Linked DNA regions of Homo sapiens: region 1 is linked to region 2. The links come from fine-mapping of genetic effects on gene expression. Tissue or cell type: whole blood. Region 2 holds a variant in brackets; the other region holds the start of a gene. All regions are shown on one strand. Distances are from middle to middle.

The links. PIP is the estimated chance that this variant, and not a neighbour inherited with it, causes the effect.
Region 1: it holds the start of GOLGB1, and the variant in region 2 is fine-mapped to the expression of GOLGB1 in whole blood (TOPMed, PIP 0.97).

The regions. Positions count from the first base shown.
Region 1 is chr3:121,748,546-121,751,233 of GRCh38, forward strand. It overlaps GOLGB1 (golgin B1), which reads right to left and starts at 1,196. Exons shown (of 22, transcript NM_001366282.2): 1 at 1,087-1,196. RefSeq lists enhancers at 854-903, 924-1,163.
Region 2 is chr3:121,671,740-121,674,427 of GRCh38, forward strand. All of the region lies in intron 17 of GOLGB1 (golgin B1), which reads right to left. Among named protein-coding and RNA genes, the nearest start is that of HCLS1, 12 kb to the left of the region's middle. The variant A/G (reference allele first, on the strand shown) is at 1,610.

The sequences.
Region 1 (2,688 bases), 77 kb after region 2:
AACTTTTTCCTGCATCTATTCCAAAACCAAATCCTGCCATTTTTCCAATAGGATATTTCCTGAGTTTGCCCCTTCATAACCATTCTGACCATCTAAATCTTATCAATTCACGCTTTTGGAAAGGCCTCTGGCCCTTATGTAAAGAGCCCTCCACTTGCTTGCATCTTGCACAGAACTGTAAAAAGGTCCTTTAAATGCTCAGACAGCTTCCAACTATCTCCAAAAGTGAAAGTACTTACCCATGATTGTAAATATCCCTGTCCCACTCTCAAACTGTCCGCTCCCCATAGACCAACTGGAGCTCTTTAAATAAGTCAGACAAATATATTCCTCATTCCTCAAAGGACTCACCCTCCCTTTCACATTCCGGTTGTGCAGATTAAACATACTCCACACCATCAAACCAAGTTATTTTTCCTCGAGAACTCTCTTAGAGGTTCCTTTTTCTCTAACAGCCTGCCCACCTCTGATTCCTGGGATTTTCGTGTTGACGGGATCGTTGGGATCTTTCCTCTCTTCTCATCTTTCCAGTAACCCATTAGCATTAGCAGGATTATTGGACAGGCCTCCGTTTGCATTAATATCTCCAATGATTCTGTGATCTCCGCCCTAAAGACCTTTGATTTCTTTTGGTCGCGCCTCCCCTTCGGGACACCAAGTTTGTTTAGGGCCTGAGCACAGGGGCCCAGCAGGTTCTTTCCGACGTCAGCGGCTGCGTACGGAGGCCGACTTAGGCAGGCCGCTCCAGGAACAAGGCCGTGCGGACAGGACTGACCTAGGCGCTTTTCCCCGTCGCTCCCAGAGGAGAAACGTACCGGGGAGGGGACAGACCGTGAGCAAGTGGTCCAAGTCTGCGCAGGGTGACCCCGAAGGCCCACCGGAGAGGCCGAGGCTTGTGGGCTACTAGAACTAGGCCTGGTAGGTGAAGGAGGCGGGTGAAGGGCCGGATCCAGGACTGAATCCGGGAGAGGCGGGGCGAGGAGGGGACTCCGGTGTAGCTGCTTGGGCAGCTCCCGCGGCCCCTCTGGCGGGGGTGACCGTTATTGGACTCGCAGAGGGAAGAGTTGGGTAGCGTCCCCTACTCACCTAGAAGCGCTGCCGCCTGAGGCTCCAGCTGCCCCCCTCCCAATTCAAGCCACGTCAGCTCGGGAAGCCCGTACGCGACACCTTCCACCGCCGCGCCCCGCCAGGGACTCAGCCACTAGCAGTTGGGACGGAAGATGGGATTAAGACACCGACCAATCAGGACTATCGGCAGGACGTTACCAGGGAGACCAGGCACACCTTGTTTGTTACCAACCTATCAACAATGACGGAAACCAATCAACGACAGAAGATGCTCCGCTTCCTCAAAGAAACAGCCAATGGACCCTAAAGAGTGAATGAGGGGAGTGATTAGACGCGAGTAGGTGCCCCGGAACAAGATCTGGGGAGGGACAGGAAGTGTCGAGTGGGCGGGCGTTCTGGGAAAGGTCAGATGTTCTCAGTGTGAAGTGGTTATGCTGGCTTCCTCCAATTCCTCCTCTTCGTCGGTTGTGACTGACCGAGACAGCGGCTTGGGCTTCGGCAGAGACTTGAGACTGCGGGCACCCGCTGCCATTAGGATTGTTGAATGAGCTGTGAGAAGGGAGTGGGGGATATGGGACTCTTAGATTGAAAAAATACTGGAGCCTCTTAGTTGTTCGTCTAGTTTCACCTTTTGATTTTGTTGATGAAAAATAATTAACCACAGAAGTAACTTGCCCAAAGTCAAACAGCGACTTAGTGATGGAACTCGGACTAGAACCCGGTGTCAGTATGAAAGAGGATCAGCAATGTCTGTAAGGACATGATTGTGAGAGAGAGAGTAGTGAATACTAGGAAGGTGCCTCTTACAAAGTGGAGCCTAAGCCAGGACCTAAGCAAAGATTGAGAGTTGAGGGCTCAGGCTCTGCAATGAGTGTCAGTGAGGAGCTCCAGCAAAAGACTGAAATCACTCATGCTTTCCTTAAACCCCTAAGGAAAGGGAAGGAAAGTAGCCAGTTTCCAATGAGCTGTCATTTCAGGCACTCTCTTGGCAATAAGAGTAATGTTAGTTTGAATTTATTGAATCTTGCTGTGCACTCAGCTGGCCCATTGTATGTATACTCATCTTAATGATTACATAACTTCACAATTCAAACATCAGCTAAGTAAGGCCTTTCCTGGCTGCCCATCTTACGGAACTGGAGGTCATTATTCTAAGTGAAATAAGTCTGGCACAGAAAGACAAATATCCCATGGTCTCACTCATGTGGGAGCTTAAAAAGTTGATCTCATGGAGTAGAGATAAGTACCAGAGGCTGGGAAGGTGGAGTTGGGGGAGGGAGGGAAGAGATTGGTTAATGGGTACAAACGTAGATAGAAGGAATAAGTTCAAGTGTTTGATAGCACAGTAGGGTGACTATAGTTAACAATATGTTATATATTTCAAAATAACTAGGAGATTAGAAATGTTCCAAACACAAAAATGATAAATGTTTGAGGTGATAGATATCCTAAACACCCTGATTTGATCATTACACATTGTATGCATATATCAAACTACCACACCCCATAAATATGTACAAATATGTATCAATACAAACATAAATAAAATTGCAATTTCCTGCATGCACTATATACTTCTTCTTTGCTTCTTTTTCCCCTAAGCATTTTGCCATCTAAAGT
Region 2 (2,688 bases):
TCTTCTATCAAACCATGTATTTGCACCCATTAATCAACTTCTCTTCATTCCCTCCTCTCCTTTATCCTTCCCAGCCTTTAGTAACTACCAATGCACTCTCTATCTTCATGAGATTCACTTTTTTTTTTTTGCTCCCACACGAGTGAGAATGTGATATTTGTCTTTCTGTTCTTGGCTTATTTCACTTAACATAATGTCCTCCAGTTCCATCTATGTTGCCACAAATGACAGAATTTCATACCTCTAAAAGCTGAATAATATTCCCTTGTGTACATATACCACATTCTTAATCTATTCATCTGTTGACGGGTACTTACATTGATTCTATGTTTTGTTTTTTATGAACAGTGCTCCAATAAACATGGGAGTACAGATGTCTTTTTGATATATTGATTTTCTTTCTTGTAGATACGTGGGTTGCTGGATCATATGGTAGTTCTATTTTTAGCTTTTTGAGATACCTCCATACTGTTCTCCACAGTGGCTGTACTAACTTACATTGCTAACAGTGTATGGGAGTTCCCCCTTTCTCTGCATCCTTGCCAGAATCTGTTACTACCTGTCTTTTTGATAAAAGCTATTTCAGCAAAGGTGAGATGACATCTCACTATAGCTTTGATTTACAATTCTCTGATGTTTAGGGATGCTGAGTATTTTTTTTTATATCTGTTGGCCATTTGTATGTCTTCTTTTGAGAAACGTCTATTCAGATCTTTTGCCCACTTTTAAGTTGAGTTATTTGTTTTCCTGCTATTTAATTGTTTGAGTCCCTTATATATTCTGGTTATTAATCCCTTGTTAGATGGGTAGTTTGCAAATGTTTTCTCTCATTCTGTGGATTGTCTCTTCACTCTGTTGATTGCTTCCTTTGCTGAACAGAAGCCTTTTACTTGCTGTAATCCCATTTGTCTATTTTTGCCTTGGTTGCCTGTACTCTTCAGGACTTACACAAAAAAAGCCTTGGCTAGATCCATGTCCTGAAGCATTTCCACAAGTTTTGCTCTAGTAGTTTCATAGTTTCAGATCTTAGAATTAAGTCTTTAATCCATTTTGATTTGATTTTTGTATGATGAGAGATAGGAGTCTAGTTTTATTTTTCTGCATATAGATATCCAGTTTTCCCAGCACCATTTATTAGAGAGATTGTCCTTTCTCCATCATATGTTCTTGGTGCCTTTGTCAAAGACAAGTTGCCCCTAAATGCCTGGCTTTATACCTGGGTTTCTAATTGTTTCATTGGTGGTCTGTGTGTCTGTTTTTATGCCAGTATCATGCTCATTAAACAGGTAGTGTGATGCTTCCAGCTTTGTTTTGTGTGTTTTTTTGTTTTTTGGTTTTTTTTTTTTTTGAGACGGAGTCTCGCTCTGTCACCCAGGCTGGAGTGCAGTGGCGCGATCTCGGCTCACTGTAACTTCCACCTCCCGGGTTCAAGCAATTCTCTGCCTCAGTCTCCCAAGTAGCTGGGATTACAGGCCCCCGCCATCACGCCCAGCTAATTTTTGTATTTTTAGTAGAGACGGGGTTTCACCATGTTGGCCAGGATGGTCTCGAACTCCTGACCTCAGGTGATCCACTCATCTTGGCTTCCCAAAGTGCTGGGATTACAGGC[A/G]TAAGCCACCACACTCGACCCAGTTTTCCTCTTTTTAATCAAGATTGCTTTGGCTAGTTAGGAGTTTTTGTGGTTACATACATATTAAATTTTTTTTCCCATTTTTGTGAAGAATGTCATTGGTATTTTGATAGGGATTGCATTTAATCTGTAGATTGCTTTGTGTAGTACTGTCATTTTAATGATATTAATTCTTCTAATCCATGAGCACGAAATATCTTTCCTTTTTTTAGTGTCCTCTTCAATTTCTTTCACAGTGTTTTATAAATCTTTCATTTCTTTGGTTAAATTGATTCCTAAGTATTTTAAATTCTTTGTAGCTATTATAAATGGGATTGCTATCTATCTATCTATCTATCTATCTATCTATCTATCTATCTATCTATTTTTGAAACACAGTCTCGCTCTGTCACCTAGGCTGGAGTGCAGGGGTGCGATCTCAGCTCACTGCAACCTCCGCCTCCCAAGTTCAAGTGATTCACATGCCTCAGCCACCCGAGTAGCTGGGATTACAGGCGTGCACCACCATGGCTGGCTAATTTTTGTATTTTTAGTAGAGAAGGGATTTCGCCATGTTGGCAAGACTGGTCTCAAACTCCTGGCCTCAAGTGATCCACTCACCTTGGCCTCCCAAAGTGCAAGGATTACAGGCATGAGCCACCATGGCTGACTGGGATTGCTTTCTTGATTTCTTTTCCAGATTGTTTGCTGTTGGCATATATAAATGCTACTGATTTTTGCCTGTTGATTTTGTCTCCTGCAACTTTACTGAATTCATTTATCAGTTCTAACAGTTTTTTGGTGGATTCTTTAGGTTTTTCTAAGTATAAGGTCATATCATCTGCAAAAAAGGCTAATTTGACCTCTTCCTTTCCAATCTGGATGTGCTTTTTTTTTTGTTTTGTTTTTGCCTAATTGCTCTAGCTAGGGTATCTAATAATATATTGAATAACAGTGGTGAAAGTAGGCATCCTTGTCTTATTTCAGATCTTAGAGGAAAGGCCTTCAATTTTTCCCTGTTCAGTACAATGTTACCTGTGGCCTCCCATATACTTTAAATAATCTCTAGATTACTTATA